2 separate regions of the Homo sapiens genome follow, and region 2 is linked to region 1. Evidence: fine-mapped expression QTL. A gene starts in region 1. The other region holds a variant in brackets. All regions are shown on one strand. Distances are from middle to middle. Region 1 holds the start of UBXN4 (UBX domain protein 4). Region 2 overlaps LCT (lactase).

What was found. PIP is the estimated chance that this variant, and not a neighbour inherited with it, causes the effect.
Region 2: its variant is the best candidate, but not a certain one, in a credible set for the expression of UBXN4 in cerebellar hemisphere (GTEx, PIP 0.60).

The regions. Positions count from the first base shown.
Region 1 is chr2:135,739,799-135,743,798 of GRCh38, forward strand. It overlaps UBXN4 (UBX domain protein 4), which reads left to right and starts at 2,057. Exons shown (of 13, transcript NM_014607.4): 1 at 2,057-2,213. The coding sequence starts at 2,132. LOC107985946 (a long non-coding RNA gene) reads right to left here and starts at 2,846. Exons shown (of 1, transcript NR_163478.1): 1 at 1,031-2,846. RefSeq lists enhancers at 1,675-1,804, 2,135-2,194, 2,523-3,298 and a silencer at 2,595-2,644.
Region 2 is chr2:135,801,581-135,806,109 of GRCh38, forward strand. LCT (lactase) reads right to left here. Exons shown (of 17, transcript NM_002299.4): 10 at 3,187-3,477; 11 at 2,350-2,548. Among named protein-coding and RNA genes, the nearest start is that of LCT-AS1, 16 kb to the right of the region's middle. The variant G/A (reference allele first, on the strand shown) is at 2,407.

The DNA.
Region 1 (4,000 bases):
GAGTAGCTGGGATTACAGGCATGTGCAATCACGCCCAGCTAATTTTTGTATTTTTAGTAGAGATGGGGTTTCACCACGTTGGTCAGGCTGGTCTTGAACTGCTGACCTCATGATCTGCCCGCCTCGGCCTCCCAAAGTGCTGGGATTACAGGCATGAGCCATTGTGCCTGGCCAACTCTTCTGTTTAAAATTTTTCAATGGCTCCCTGTAATCCTTAGAAAAATGTCTTAAAATTTTTAACATGATTTTCAAGACTCTGTATCATCTGATCCTTGCCTAGCTTTCCAGCCTCACTTGTACCACACTCCTCTTTCTATGTTATAGCCACACTGGGCATTTTTTAGTTCTGCAAGTGCACTGTGTTTGCTTGCTTCAGAGCCTCATGTGGAATAGCCTTCTCCTTCACCTACCTAGAGTTCCCCGACACGTCATTTCCTCATGAAGGCCCTTTCTGACTCCACTAGCCCATGTTCGGTCCCATCCTCATACACTTCTGTAGCACTCTGAATTACCCTTCTGTGACATTTATCATCACTCATAATTACTTATTCAATGTCTGTCTTCCTGACTAGACTGTACAGTCACAAAGACAGGGCCTTCTTCTGACTGCCTCACCTCCTTATCAGTGCCAGGCACAATGCCTAGCTCATAAAAGATGAGTGATAAACACTTGACAAATGAATATAAAACTATGAAGGATTCTTATTTAATTCTAAAATTAGAGATAATTAAAGACATAGCTCTATTGGAATAATTTCTAGATTGATCAAATTTCCAGAAGTCCATTAAAGTTGATGTTAAAGGTCAATTCTAATTTTTCTGTAGGATTGTTGTCCTATAGAAGCAACTGTCCCTAATCAGCATTATGTCTCAGTTTATAATAACACTATATACGAGAGGCCTGATTGGGAAAAAAAGTACAAAAATCGGAGTGCAAATAATTAGCTATTTTTAGGGAAAATATCTGTAGGAAAGGTGGTATATTCAGATGTATCACTTCCTTTATCTTGCAAAGATTGTCAGATAGATGTACTGCTGGAGGATAAATTTAATTGATGTAGAATTTAACATAATAGTATATGCAACTTTAAATAAACCATGCAAGCCTTTAGCTAATAGTTATTACAGACCATGTGATTTCATGAAAGTATTAAATATGGATCAGTTTTCATTTAATGGCAGCCAATCACAAAGCGCCACATCTTGATTATAGGACATTCTCCCAGAAAATTGGAAAATAAATCACTATCTAGTCTCTTTTGTATTACCATGGAAAGTAGCTGGAAAAGAAATAATCTATTCTCTGCTTTGTGTTACTTTAAAAAGTAGCTGTGGCAATAGCCTAACGCGTTTTGAAGTTTTGAAATGATCTCTATCCAGTGTCTAGGAAATTGCTGAAGGCCTGCGTTCTACCAATTCCTCCGCTTAGGCACATGGACTACAGGTTATTAAAGAAGGTGACTTGCGGTTTTTATCCCGTTTTTCTGCAAGGTTGGGCTACGTTCAGAAGAAATCAAAGCCTCGGAGTTAATCCCGACAAAGCCCATTTAGTTCCATGCGAGGACTATTTCCTCCACACTGAGAGTCTCAACGAGGCCGAGAATAGCATATGCCAGTTGGAGTGACACTTATTTCTCCCTCTCCCCTTTATAGAATGTGTAGTGGCCCTCACTACTGCCCCCTTTAGCTGTGCCTCAGAACCCACAGTTACATGCTCCACAATATGGAGGCGAATAAGCCTAAGTGGACTACAATTCCCATCATGCCTCACTGCAGGCGCCGCCGACGTGTCTTAGCGGTTAGTCATCCCTCTTACCGCTTTCCTCCACTTCCTGGACTGCGCGACCGGAGGCCTAGCGGGCGCGCGCCCGCACCATCGACTCGCCAACGAGAGAAGGTCCTGGGGCACGGACACCGACGGGTTGCGACTGTGACGTGAGGTGTTCTCGCGCGCGCTAGCGCGCGTCTCCGGGTGCCGCTGACGGGCGTGCGCGCTTGTGCGGAGCCGGAGGTGGGGGCCGAACCAGCCAAGGTTGCGGGGGCCGCAGAGCCGGACGAAGACGGAGGGCGGAGCCGGCTTCGGGACTGCGGAGACTACACACCGAGCGAGCGCCTGGGCCCGAAGGGAGCGATGCTGTGGTTCCAGGGCGCCATTCCGGCCGCCATCGCGACGGCCAAAAGGAGCGGCGCGGTCTTCGTGGTGTTCGTGGCAGGTGAAGGAGGCAGGGGTTCGAGAGGCGGCCGGGACACCCCTCCGGCCTACCTTCATCCTCTTGTATACCTCAGCCGCCGGCCCGCCCTCCCCGAGACGCGGGCTCCTGTCGGCTCGCACAATTGCCACTACTACCCCGCGCCCCAGGGACGGCTGCGACTCCGCCGCCAGATCCCCCAGAGGGGCCATGCAGACCCTCAGCGCCCTGCTCCTTCAGGCCCCGGGCGCCCCCAGCCTTTCCTCAGTGTCTGCGAGGCCCGGGCTGCCGGCCCGTGGCTGTTCAGCGCCTCCCCGGTTCGTTTGAGATACAGTGGGCCTGGCCCCACCGCTGCGTCTCCCGGCAGCCGGGCCGGAGGCACCGTCTGGCCCTGGTCTCCAAAGCGCCCCGAGGCCCGCCGAAATCTCCCCGCTCGGGGCGACGGACGCGGCCAGCAGGCCCCAGCCGCCCAGCCCCGCTCGTCGCCCCGAGCCTCTCCCCTGCGCAGCCAGACCCCCGCGACCCTCTCCCTGACGTCCCTCTCTGTCACCAAGGACCCTCTTTGTGCTGCTTGAACGCCCGTTTCGTTACTGCTGTTTAGATGGAGGTAGGAACGGGCCATTAGGCAAGCAGTTGGGTTGTAATTAGTTGTGGACTGTCGGGAAGAAAGCTGTGTCATCGATAAGCAACAAAGAGAAACCACCTGATGTTCACGGTTACTGGTGTTAGTACGTTCCTGAAACGTAAACTTTTGAGCTGAATAGAGGTTTAATTTTTCTTTATGGCAGTCTTGGTAGGGGATCTAGTGTGAAATAATGTAAGTTTAAAAAAAATCCATTAGTTTCAAAGAAAATAGACGTTCAGTCCTTGGTTTCTTCCCTTTGTTGTCTTCTTAGGCTAAAATCTACACGACTTTGAGAACGTTTATTAACTCATATATTCTCTGTTGCTCTAGGCTATTTTGCTCCATATTCTCCTGTTTTATTACTGAAATCTTGTAGATTTACAGTGAACTCCCTGCCTCTACGGTTCTGCTCATACTCATTACATGGACCAAATCAATGTTTGTGGCTGTTGTTAATTTGAGGTGTATTTCTTCAACTATTTGTGTTTAATAACGGTTTATTCATAATTAACTCGTCTTTTAATAGCTCTATAACTTTATGCACTGCAGTGAAGAACGAATTACTGAAATGTGAATGTCATTTAGCATTAAATTTGGAATTTATAATTGTTTTGTTACGCCAAGTTTTTAGCTCAATGCTGTTTATTAGAAGAGCTTGAATAGTTTAGATTCTGTGATGCTGTCTGGGGGTTATATTATACTTTACATAAATTAATTCTGTAATCCCGTAAGGAAAAAAATGGATTGAAAATGAAAGGAAAAGTAAATGACACTATGCTTATTGTGTACATTAGTAGGTTTTTGACATTTTAAATTGTTTTTCTCCTAATATCTCAGTTGATCCTTGCAGTAAATAGAACAGGTTTAATTATCCCCATTTTATAGATGAGGCACTTAGGTCAGCAGTCATAAAGTGACTTGCACTAGGGCCACAAAAAGGATTTACATGTCTTAACAGTCAAATTTTTTAGTAGCTTCAAAAAAACTGGCTTTTTTGTTTCTTAAGGAAAAAACTGAACAATTTGTAAATTGGTGATTTAAATTGGTATAGAAATCAGAAATTTGGATTATGGTAGTCATGTTTTTGAACAAATGTCCAAACATTCCTAGAAGGCACTCTTGAGGTAAATCAGTTAATTTAAAAAAAGAAACGAGAGATTTTTATTAACAAATATTAATATTTGGA
Region 2 (4,529 bases), 62 kb after region 1:
GGCAGGCGCCTGTAATCCCAGCTACTCAGGAGGCTGAGGCAGGAGAATCACTCGAATCCAGGAGGTGGAGACTGCAGTGAGCCGAGGGGTTCAAACAATTCTCCTGTCTCAGCCTCCTGAGTAGCTGGGACTGCAGGCGCATGCCACCACATCTGGTTAATTTTTGTATTTTTAGTAGAGGTGGAGTTTCACCATATTGATCAGGCTGGTCTTGAACTCCTGACCTCAGGTGATCCACCTGTCTTGGCCTCCCAAAGTGCTGGGATTACAGGCGTGAGATACCATACTCGGCCTATGATTATTTTTGAGACAGGGTCATGCACTGTCATCCAGGCTGGAGTGCAGTGGTGCCATGAGCATGGCTCACGGCAGCCTTGAACTCCTGGGCTCAAATGAATTGACAGGAGTTGATAATCTGGAGCTCCTTGGGGACCCATTGTGATCATTTGGGTTGGAGAATGTAGCTAATGCAACCAGCTGACACGGAGATACCCTGATAGTGAATGCTGCAAGAGAGGCGCCTCTCATGTGTTGAAGGAGTGTAAACCAAAGGGGCGAACTAGGACCAATGGAGATGCCTCTGATAACGATTTGAGGCACATCTCCTGGTGGCTCTTTCCAGCTGTTACACAGTGTTCTGAGGAATCACATGAATGAACACAAATTTATTCTTATTAACTCAGAACTAGATAAAAGGGAAACTGGATGGTTCTCAAGGCACAAAAATAGGTCCACAATTTCTTATTCAAAACCCTAAGGGATCCCGCAATCTTACTTTTGGGTATTTATCCAAAGGAAAGTAAGTCAGAATACCAAATCAATACCTTGACCTCTGTGTTTATTGCATCACTGTTACAATGGCCAAGATATGGAATCAACCTAAGTGTCCATCAACAGATGAATGGATAAAGAAAATGTGGCATCTATATATGATGGAATACTATACAGCCATAAAGAAGGATGAATCTTGTCATTCGTGACAACATCGCTGGAACTGGAGGTCATTATGTAAAGTGAAATAAGTCAGGCACAGAAAGGCAAATACTGCATGTTCTTACTCACATGTGGGAGCTAAAAAGATGAGCTCCTAGCAGCAGAGAATAGAATTGTGATTATTAGAGGATGGGAAGGGTAGTAGGGAGGGAGGACAGGGAGAGGTTGGTTAACGGATACAAAGTTAAGCTAGATAAGAAGATGAAGTTCTAGTGATGTGTGGCACTGTAGAGTGAATGTAGTTAACAATAATTTAGGCTGGGTGCAGTGGCTCACATCTGTAATCCCAGCACTTTGGGAGGCTGAGGCGGGCGGATTACCTGAGGTCACGAGTTCGAGACCAGCCTGGCCAACATGATGAAACCCCATTTCTACTAAAAATACAAAAATTAGCTGGGCATGGTGACACATGCCTGTAATCCCAGCTACTTGGGAGGCTGAGGCAGGAGAATTGCTTGAGCCCAGGAGGTGGAGGTTGCAGTGAGCTGGTATCATACCACTGCACTCCAGCGTGGCCAACAGAGCTAGACTCTGTCTCAAAAAAATAAAAAATGAATAAAAAATAATGATACAAAAGAATTTAGTGTATATTTGCAAAAAGCTAGAAAAGAGGACTCCGAATTTTCCCAACACAAAGAAATGATGAATGTTTGAGGTGATGAATATACTAATTATTCTGATTTCATCATCACACATTGTATACATGTATCAAAATATATTTTGTACTCCATACATATGTACAATTATTGCATGTCAACCAAAGTTAAAAGAAAAAAAATCTTTTAGGGTCAGATGTGTTTTGGAATTAAATGTTTCCTTTGAGAAAAGTACCTATCAGCCCCATGGGCCGCAGACAGCTAGCTCTCCATAGTCAAGCACACTGATATCTCTGCAGCAGAACTTAGGAATGTTTGCTCAGTGCGATAAAGACCATGAGCAGCCTCCTGTTGGTTTGAGTCAGGTTTCACTACTATTAAATGAGCTCAGGTCAGCCAAACCAATTGTCAGAAACTTTGGGGTTTGGGAATTGTGGAAATAGACTGTAGACCTGTACAGCCTGACAAACTGTCCTTCCCCACATCAATTTGCCCACATCTCTGATCTCAGAGAGCTTCCCACCTGAGGCCGATCAGAGTCACAGAGCAAAGAAATGAACCCACCTTGAGGAATTGAGATGTGAAATTCATGTTTAACAATGCAATGCCAGGAGGGAAACCTCTACAGCCCTGAGCAAGAGGCAGGGTTTCTGCCATGGGGCTTTCTTGGTTGCCTCGTCCTGTGCCATCTGGATTTCAACTCTTGATGTGCTAAGAATGCCATGATTCAAAGAGCCTATGAGCCAGGGCTGGGACTTACCTGGAGCTGCTGTTCCGTAGCCATAGCCCTGGTAAGCAATGACAAAGGGCTCATTCA[G/A]CGTGATCCAAAACTTCACCTTGTCTCCCAGCCTCTGGAAGAGCACATCTGCATACTCCTTAAACCGCTGCACGATGGTCTCATTCTCCCAGCCTCCTACATCTTGGAGCGTCTGTGGTAGGTCCCAGTGGTAAATGGTCACCTGGGAAGAAGCCAGATCAGCTGTTGCATCAGTCATGCTTTCCATGGGAAGCCCTAGGTTAGATGTGCCAGCATCAACGTCTGCTGCAAATCCTGAGAGTGACTTATGAGACAAAAAGGCTCAAAGATTTTTTTCTTTTTCTTTTGGGAAAAGGGTAAATTGCTTTCAGGGAGAACTAGATGGCTGAGGTCAAGGTTGGGAAGGAAACTCTTTTATGCTTTTCAAATTCTGCATCATATGAATTCACTGACAATTAAAAAGTTAAATTTGAGGTCGAGCACGGTGGCTCATACCTATAATCTCAGCACTTTGGGAGGCCGAGGCGGGTGGATCACTTGAGGCCAGGAGTTTGAGACCAGCCTGGCCAACACAGTGAAACCCCGTCTCTACTAAAAATACAAAAATTAGCTGGGCATGGTGATGCGTGCCTATAAGCCCAGCTACTCTGGAGGCTGAGAAACGAGATCCGCCACTGCACTCCAGCCTGGGTGACAGAGCGAGACTACGTCTCAAAAACAACAATAACAACAAAAGCTAAATTTGAAACCAGCATTTTGTTTACATGATAAATGTGCTCCCCCAGCCCTGCTGGTTCCTGCATGTGGACTTTCCCAAGGCCTTGCCAGGACCCACCATACCTGGGGCTGGATGCTGGCGGCCAGCAGTGTATCGATGAGCCTCACGTAGTAGTTCAGGCCCGCTTCATTGATGTACCTGGTGGTTCCATCAGGGAGGATGCGAGACCAGGAGATGGAAAAACGGTAGTGGGACACGCCCAGGTTCTGCAGGGTGACCAGATCCTCAGCAATCTTGTGATAACTGTCACAGGCCACGTCTCCAATGGCATCGTTCTCAACCCTCAGTGGTGTGTGAGAAAACGTGTCCCAAATGCTGAGTCCTTTGCCATCTGCTCTCCACGCACCTTCAATCTCAAGATGACAAGACATGGTCTTATTAAGTCATTCAGTCAAGCACTCACAGCCTCCTTTCTTTCACTGGGTGAGTCTCAAGTCAGGACGTTTACTCTTTTGTGATAACGCTTAGCTTAAAACAAGCACATTGGTCCATGTGTGGTGGCTCACGCCGGCAACCCCAGCGCTATGGGAGGATCGCTTGAGCCCAGGAGTTCAAAACCAGCCTGGGCAACATGGCAAAACCCCATCTCTATAAAAAAAATCAAAAAAATTAGCCAAGTGTGGTTACCTCCTCTGGGAGCCTGCTCTGGCCCCTGCTCAGTCTCGGAACTCCCCTGGCTTTCTCTACGCATGTGGCAGGCCCACTCTTGCACAGAGACAGACGCAGACAGAAGATGGAAAGCAGGAACCACCACTAACTGCCAGGCAAGTCACTCTTGCCTTTTCCATTTTTCTTGCACAAAATAAAACCATCCTATTTTCTGTATGAGTAAGCCTCATTTTGGCATGAATACAGTAGTGGTGTGATGTTTTTAGGACATCAGAATAAGCTCAGGCCCATGCTGAGAGCCAATGTGAGCAAACTGCCTGCTTGGAAGGATCTAGCTGGGGAATAAAGGGGTCCAACAGGGACTGGTCATAGTCATGGGCTGTAGAACAGTGTTTTGGTCAATGACGGACCTGATATATGATGGTGGTCCCATAAGATTATAATGGAGCTGAAACATTCCTATTGCCTAGTGCTTTGCAGCCATCATAACGTTGTAGAGCACTGCATTATTCATGCTTGTGGCAGTGCTCATGTCAATAAATCTACCGTATGGCCAGCAGTATAAAAGTATAGCACATGCAGGCCGGGTGCTGTGGCTCAGACCTGTAATTCCAGCACTTTGGGAGGCTGAGGGAGGAGGATCACTTGAGGCCAGGAGTTCAGACTAGCCCTAGCAACATAGCAAGACCCCCATCTCTACAAAAAAATTAAAAATAAAAAATTCATTGGGTGTGGTGGCATATGCATGTAATCCCAGCTAATGGGGAGGCTGAGTGATCCTCCTGCCTCAGCCTCC